3 separate regions of the Homo sapiens genome follow, and all the other regions are linked to region 1. The links come from fine-mapping of genetic effects on gene expression. A gene starts in region 1. Each other region holds a variant in brackets. All regions are shown on one strand. Distances are between the middles of the regions. Region 1 holds the start of GOT1 (glutamic-oxaloacetic transaminase 1). Region 2 overlaps GOT1 (glutamic-oxaloacetic transaminase 1). Region 3 overlaps GOT1 (glutamic-oxaloacetic transaminase 1).

Evidence for each region. PIP is the estimated chance that this variant, and not a neighbour inherited with it, causes the effect.
Region 2: its variant is fine-mapped to the expression of GOT1 in monocytes (Quach 2016, PIP 0.95).
Region 3: its variant is fine-mapped to the expression of GOT1 in monocytes after LPS (Fairfax 2014, PIP 0.95).

Annotation. Positions count from the first base shown.
Region 1 is chr10:99,429,385-99,432,063 of GRCh38, forward strand. GOT1 (glutamic-oxaloacetic transaminase 1) reads right to left here and starts at 1,240. Exons shown (of 9, transcript NM_002079.3): 1 at 1,064-1,240. The coding sequence starts at 1,181. GOT1-DT (GOT1 divergent transcript) reads left to right here and starts at 1,552. Exons shown (of 5, transcript NR_183993.1): 1 at 1,552-1,881. RefSeq lists enhancers at 1,081-1,140, 1,161-1,210, 1,391-1,820.
Region 2 is chr10:99,404,125-99,406,803 of GRCh38, forward strand. GOT1 (glutamic-oxaloacetic transaminase 1) reads right to left here. Exons shown (of 9, transcript NM_002079.3): 3 at 2,602-2,679; 4 at 2,013-2,125; 5 at 1,632-1,736. Among named protein-coding and RNA genes, the nearest start is that of GOT1, 25 kb to the right of the region's middle. The variant GAC/G (reference allele first, on the strand shown) is at 1,396.
Region 3 is chr10:99,397,760-99,400,438 of GRCh38, forward strand. The region is part of intron 8 of GOT1 (glutamic-oxaloacetic transaminase 1); the gene reads right to left. Among named protein-coding and RNA genes, the nearest start is that of GOT1, 32 kb to the right of the region's middle. The variant C/T (reference allele first, on the strand shown) is at 1,553.

The DNA.
Region 1 (2,679 bases):
GACAAAACGTTATCTATGAGAAACCTGATTCTGAGCGTCCTTCATGTCACACTCTGCTACAAAATGATTCCACCTTCTCTTTCCACAATTTCTAGTCCTTTTATTCTAAGTCTATTACCTAGCATAAGACTTTATCCTACCCATTTTCATCTCTCTGGCTGGTCTTTGCACGTGGCAAAATCCAAATGGAGAAAATAAGTGTCTGTGGGGCTTCAAACATCCAAATGATAGTGAGAAGAATAACAAATTCATCAGAGAGGGTTAGGGGTAAAAAATTTGAGAGGCACTCCAATATAAATCTTCTTGGCAGATGGGGAAACTGAGGCCCATGCTCTGAGCTGTCCAAGGTACAGAAGAGAATCACTTGAATCAAGAAATGAAGATAGGATGTGTGGAAAGTAAGCTTCTACCATCCATACTTCTCTCCACTCCTTTCCACCATCTCTACCCATTCCTACCACATCTGTGACGGCCAGAACCATCTCCCCAGACCCCCCGGGGGCAGCATTAACCTGTCTCAAAGCATTGTGTAACACCAGCAGATTTTTAAATCCTTAAGGGCAAAATCAAGCCTCAGTCTCCCCCTACAAAGCTTAATAAGGTGGCTGATTGATACTCGGTGGTCACTCAAATATTTACCGACTCAGAACAGAGCTTTCTAGCGTTAAAAGTTCTCCTTTACCCATTTCCTAGCAACCAGAACCCTAAGCCTATCAGGCTTCCTATTTTTCTACCTCTCTCTACAAGCTCCGGCAGCCTCATTTCTTAGGAGGATGCAGTATAAAGAAGGCAGAATGGGGAATCGGAAAGACTGAGTTTGTGTCTTGGCTGCTACACCTGGTTTGTGCGGCCTCGGACACATCGCCCCTTTCCAGGGACTCCACACCTGCATCTGTAAAATGGGCAGGTTTTAGGAAGCCTTCGTGGATCCAGCCTCCTCTCCGGCGCCGCCCTCTTCAGGCAGCGCCACACTGGGCCTCGGCTTCTCCCACAGTCTCCACGACCTGGGTTGGGTCCGCTCCACTCCCCGAGCTGCTCACACTCCAGAGCACTACATCCTTACCTCCCACTCCCAGGTTGACCTTGCGGGGGTCCGGATCCTCCCTGAAGTCGGCAGTGAGCTTGAAGACCAGGACAGGCTGGGCCTGCGGAACCTCGGCAAAGACTGACGGAGGTGCCATATCGAGAGACTAGGAATCAAGAGATTTCACCCCACGCCCGGAGCTGGCAGGTCAGGTCTGGCCGTTGCGACTGGAGGAGACACTCACCTTCACCTAGCCGGCGGGGGCGGGCCCGCGGCCTCCAATGGTCGAGCCGCGTCCAAAGCTTGGCAACGCGATTAACCAATCGCCAGCTTCTGACGACGAAGGCACAGGGGAGAAGGAACGCTATTAGCCAATCCAAGAAAACAATTTATCGGCTGCCGAGAATGATGCAACCAATGCAATTTCCTCCGGCTGAGGCGTGGGCGAAGACTACGGTTGATTGGTAGAGCGTGCTCCTATCGCAGAGGCTGTTATTCCTTGGGTCTCCCGGCTGAGGGGAGGAGCCGAGCGAGCGGCGGGTGTCCCTGAGAGGCCACCTTTCGACCTTCGAGGGCCAGGAGGATACGGGGAGGTGGCCGGAGGGAGTTCCCGAACACAGGTCTTCCTGTTCCCGCCGAGCAGGTGTTGGCGGTGCCAGGCCCGGCCTGGCGGGCCCGGGCTGGCAGCCAAATACCCAGCGTCTGTGCTCGGGACGGGAGTGTTCGTCCAGGACGTGCAGCTCCGGAGCCTGCGCGGGCGACCTTGACCACCTTTGTCGGCTGTTTCCCCCTGAGGGAAGTATACCTGTCCTGCCAGCCTTGGTCTCTGGCAGGGAAGGTCCTTCCAACAGAGAGGGGTGCGCACGAATTCCTTTTTGCCGCTCTTCTATTAATAGTTTGAGATTTTCCTCCCCGATTCCTTGCAGAGAGGGCCTGGTCCTCAAGGACCTCGGGATCTGGGCGCGACGTCCCTTCCCAGCTTCCTCCCGCGCGCACCGGACCAGATCTTGCTGTCGTCAGCTGGCTGGTACCCAAAGTTCCTCTTCGTCAGGCTGTTCCTTCCCCGTTAGAGTCCTTCCTCCCCAGGAGCCCTCTCCATCTGCTGACCTTCAAGACCCAGAGCGAATGCCACTTCATCCATGAAGCCTTCCCTTAACCCTTATCTGGCCAAAATGTCTCTTTCCTGTGCTTCTGTACTTTCACAATTTTAGAAAATGCCTTTGTGGTTAAAAACCTATCTCCGGGACCGGACTATCTAGGTTTAGATTCTGGCTGCCGCTTACGAATTTGGGCAGGTTTAGTCAAGTTATTTTAACCTCTCTGTGGAAGTTCCTGCTCTGTGGAAATAATAGTATTTTCCTCAGAGTTGGTGTGGGGAGTTTGTGAGTTAATACATTTACGAAGTGGTTAGTTGCATGTAAGAAGGACTCTCTAAATGTCAGCTATTATTAACATTGCATATCTGCCACACCCTTCATAGATGGTAAACTGCTTTTTTTTTTTTTTTTACTTTTATTTTAGGTTCGGGATACATGCACAGGTTTGTTTTATAGATAAATTGCTTGTCATGTGGGTTTGTTGTACAAATTATTTTGTCACCCAGATAGTAAGCATAGTACTTGACAGGTATTTTTTCTGATCCTCTCCCTCCTCCC
Region 2 (2,679 bases), 25 kb before region 1:
AGGGCTTACTTTTGATGCAAGGAGACAATGTCCTACATTGTGGATTTTCCTCTGTGAATTTCTGGCGTGAGAGCCTTAGTCAAGTGTAGGCTTGGTATCCCCAGGGCTCCTCATGGGCTATTCTGCTAGGTACTCAAGAGGAAGGGAACAGAGTAGCCTCCATTCCTGTCACTCATCTCCTCAAAGAGCTCTCCACAGGGAACCTGCTTCTACAGCTGTGCTCTCTGAGTGGACACCACTTCCCTCCCCGGAACTGTCCAAATCTTTGGTTGTACTTTGATTCCCATCTCTTAGGTTTATCTTGACTAGGTGGGACTGGGGGGAATCTGGACTCCTAACTCTGCAGCTCATCCCCCACATCCTGGCACTCCCCAAGTCTCATCAGTCCTGTCTCTTCAGAGCTCCCAAATCCTTTTGCATCTCACTGTCCCCACTGCTACCTACTTCATCCAGGTCACCATCAACTCCTACCTGGGCTATGGCAATGGTCTCCTAACTGCTCCCACGGCCTGTCTAGTCTTGCCTCTCTCTGACCCATTCCCTGCTATGACATCAGGGTGGCCTTAAGACCATGCACATCCAATCATGTCACTCCCCGACATCCAAGATTTCAGTGGCTCCGCACTGCCCTGAGAATAAAGTCCAAGCCTCAGCACAGACCCTGCCCCTATTCACTCTAGCCTCATCACTCACACTCCCCATGATGTCTGCCTGGGGCTTCTGACCATGCTCCGTCCTCTGCAGAGCACATCCCTTCCCTGTCAACCCCTGTCTGCTGATGCCTTCTTAGCTCCTCCCCATCCTACAGGACTCAACATAGAAACCACTGCTTCCAGGAAGGTTCCTGCCACCAACCCGCCAACTCCCACATATACACTGCCCAAAGTCTGGGCTATGTACCCCCCTATAACACTGTCAACACAGCTATCTCACAGCATCACAGCTGCCTTAGTACTCGTCCATCTCCCCAAACAGGCTGTCTGTCTTTGAGGGTAGGGACTGCATCTGCTCCATTCAATAGTGTATTCCCACAGTGTCCAATACACAGCAGTTCCTTAATAAGTATTCTACAAACTCGTTAAGGAAGAATATACACACTTTCAGCTAGGAATTCCCACCTAGAAAGTTACGCCAAAGAAATAATAAAAGGAAATTTTGTTACATAATTTTTCATCAGATCAAGCAATCTGAAGTAAACCTAAATATTCATCAGATGATTTACCCCATCCCTAATATGACATATCCATGAAAGAAATATAATATAGCTATGAAAAATGATGCTGCAAAATATTCAATGACATGTATATAAAGAAGTGAAAATGAAAAACAAATTGTGTTGCACAAAACAGTACAGACAAAATGATCTCATCTTTGTAAAACATATACATAAAACTA[GAC/G]ACACACACACACACACACACACACACACACACACACAGTCTGACATTCTATCTACCAAAACATTAACAGTATCTTTCTTTAGGTAATAAAATTTACAGTTAATACTTATTTTCTTCTTTGGACTTTTCTCCATTTTCCTAATTCCTCAGCAAACAGCAAACAGGTATTGCTTCTACATACATTAAATAAGAATATATACTATTTTTTAAGAGATGCTCTGAAGGGGCAGTTACCTTCATGACAGAAGCAATCTGCTTCCACTGCTCCGGAGTTGGGTCAATCCCAGTTGGGTTGTGTGCACAGGCGTGGAGGACAACAATGGAGAACTCAGGAGCATTCTGAGGAGAAGGAAGCTATGTCAGCTCTGACACTGATGGGAATATTGGGAGACAGAGTCAGCAGCAGATTGGTCAGTGATGGAGGGCAAAGGGCAACCATATTCTTGTCACTCTTTCATGTCTCTTTTGTGCCCTCTCTCTTACATGCTATGTCAGAAACCACCATCAGGTATGGGGAAGGTGTCTCAGACTCCTTCACTTAGCAACTGGTCCAAAGACTTTGCCTGAGATTCCTGACACCATGCAATTCTCTACTTTTTCCTCTAAATCACCCACCTCCAGATCATTCAGGAAGCCCTGGAGGTCCAATCCTCTCTTCTCTGCATCCCAGTAGCGATAGGACCGAATGTCTTTAAAACCAGCAGCGGAAAACACAGCATTGTGATTCTCTGCATGCAAAGAAGTAAAAAGTTAAGCACTTTACAAACACTAGGAGGCATGAGTGGAAAGGATGCAAGTCAGCTTCCAGGGCCCTCCCAGGCTCAATGTCCACTGGGCATCATCCAGGCTGGGGGTTAAGATGTAGAGGAATGATTGTAACCAAGAACAAGTTCAACCAGTCACATTAATGCCAGACTTATATTCTACTACAATGATACTTCCTGCATCTACATTCTATGCCTCCTCTGGGGAGTTTCAACATAGCCTTGGTAGATACAAGTCTACTAAGAGTCTTGAGAAAGAGTATTCTTAACTTGATTTTGAGCAGCAGGTTTCTCATGCACTGCCATAACCCACTGTTCAAGCCATTCCCAACAGTCAGTTGTTCTAGGGCTGGATTACATTTTCTGTGTAACCAGGGAGAGTCATGAGGATAATTCTCTCTGGTTTCTGTTTTTCCTCTCACTTCAGCTGAAAGACTCACCCCAGGTTGGTGAGGACACATAGACAGGTGTGTTCTTGTTGTTTGTTCCATTGTACCAACGCGCTAAGAAATCAGCTC
Region 3 (2,679 bases), 32 kb before region 1:
GACAATTACAGCTTTACTTCTTTCCCCTTAACAGAGAGAAGCAAAACAAAAGGCGCTATTTTGTCCAACTGACAAACAGAAAAATATGCTCACTAGATTCTGGAAAGTACTCTTACTAGTTCACCTTTGAATCCCCAGAAAATTCAATATGGCTACTACTGATGGGAATTTTAATCTGAGATTGCCTTCCAACCAAGCCTTATACATTATATCCACCAGGACACCCCTATCACCTAAAAACAACCATCAGACGGACAGCGATATGAAATGCTGGCTATGAAGTGCTTCCTTTAGTTCTTCCCTAACCTGGACTTGCATTGAGTACCCGCGGCAGCCTCCCTTTGACATTTCATTTTTACAATACATTGGGTAAGGCCCCATGCATGAGGTACCTGATCAATCCTGTGTGAATTAACCAATGAGCTGAGAAATGACACAGACCTCTCTGACCTGGCACCATCAGACTTCTGTTCATTTCTCAGCTTTCTCTCAGATGCAGTAGTTTTTCCATGTTTTCAGAAATGCATCACATGTGGGTAAGAAGAGACTACCTGTACTTCCTTTATACAGCAGTCTCTAAAGCAGTTTTGCTATTTGGCAAATCCATTGATAGAATTTTAGTGAATTTGGCTGGGCACAGTGGTTCACGCCTGTGATCCCAGCACTTCAGGAGGCTGAGGCTGGTGGATTACCTGAGGTCAGAAGTTTGAGACCAGCCTGGCCAACATGCTGAGACCCAGTCTCTACTAAAAATACAAAAATTAGCCAGGCGTGGTGGCATGTGCCTATGGTCCCAGCTACTCAGGAGGCTGAGGCAGGAGAATTGCTTGAAACCCAAGAGGAGGAAGTTGCAGTGAGCCGAGATCACACCACTGCACTCCAGCCTGGGTGACAGAGTGAGACTCTGTCTCAAAAAAAAAAAGAATTTTAGTGAATTATTGCTTAAGTAATTAGTACCTTTAAGATACCACCAACCTGAGGAAATGGAATAATAATAGAATCATCATAATCAGAGGAGTAAACACTATGTGCCAGGCAGTGTTCTAAGCACTGCATCTTAGTTCATCCTGATAATAACTTTATCATGCCCATTTTACAGATAGGCCATAAAGACATTAAATGGCCTTCCGAGATTGCACAGCTGGTCAATGGTGGATGTGGGATTTTCAGGCAGGATTTCAAGTCTGGGCTGTACACTGCCCCCGTGATGCTACAGTGCCTCTCTAAGGAAGTGAAAAATCTGGACCCTGGACTCAGTGCTCCTTGAAGGAAACCAAAATAGTTCACCCCAAAATATACTTTGACATATTTTGAGATGGCTGTTGAGAGGGCCTACATACAGAAGTAGCCCTGCAAAGCTGTCTTTTGTGGGAGAGATCTGTATCTGTAGAGAAAATCTGCATGGCTGCAGCTAGGCTTTCTCTGAGGCCCTCCCTTGTCCAGATCTAGGGGAGATTAACTGAGAGTGTGATGCCTTTAAAGGTCTAAAAGAAATAGACCTTTACCGCTATTTTCTCCGAGGGCTGCTACCTGTCTTATCTACATAATATAA[C/T]AAGACCACCTTTGCTAACCAGGCCTTCTCTTCTCTGCCTGCCATAATCTGTTCTGGCAAGCTCCAAGCTCCCATTCTTTCTATAACCCCAAGATGGTATAAAAGCATCAATCATCTGGCCATTTATTTGAGTTCTATTTTGTAAGACACCTGTGCAAGTTAATAAATTTGCATGCTGGCCAGGCACAGTGGCTCATGCCTGTAATCCAAGTACTTTGGGAGGCTGAGGAGGGAGGATTGCTTGAGCCCAGGAGTTGACGACCAGCCTGGGCATCATAAGGAGACCCTGTCTCTACAAAAAAATCTTAAAAATTAGCCGGGCATGGTGGCACACACCTGTGGTCCCAGGTACTACGAAGGCTGAGGTGGGTGGATTGCTTGGGCCTGGGAGGTTGAGGCTACAGTAAGCCATGATTGTGACGCCGCACTCCAGCCTGGGCAACAGAGTGAGACTCTGACTCAAAAATAAATAAATAAATTTGTATGCCTTTTCTCCTATTAATCTGCCTCTTGTCAGCTGATTTCCAGCAAACTTTCAGAGGGCAAAGGGTAAGTTTTCCCTTGACCCCTCCAAACCAGTGAACAAAGAAAGCAAGCTTAAGAAGAGGTTTACCTGTGTGAATTGGTCACCCAAGGGGATAGAGCCTCAAGCCAACACAGCCCTGGGTGTGCCACTCTTTCTAAAAGCCTGTGCCCTGAGGCAGTGATTAAATGACTCCTACCCTGGCTTTTGGTTTTGTTTTAGTAAAAATGAGGCCTTTCTACTTTTTCAGAGAAGGGAAGTGTCACAGTTTGAAAAGCTAGTAAAAGTTATGGACTCTTTCCCTAGAGCAGGGCCAAAATACACATATACAATTTTTTAAACATCATTTCAGGGGCTTCACAGTTCTCCTAAACGTACATCCAGGGATTCCAGGTTAAAAGCCCCATTCTGACAGAAAAAAGATAACAAAGGAAGTATTGTAATGTGAGAATTGTAGAAACTAGGTGGCGGATATATAGGGGTTCACTGTACAATTCCTCCAACTTTTCTGTATGTTTAAAACTTTTCTGGCCAGGTGCAGTGGCTCATGCCTGTAATCCCAGCACCTTGGGAGACCGAGGCGGGCAGATCACTTGAGCTCAGG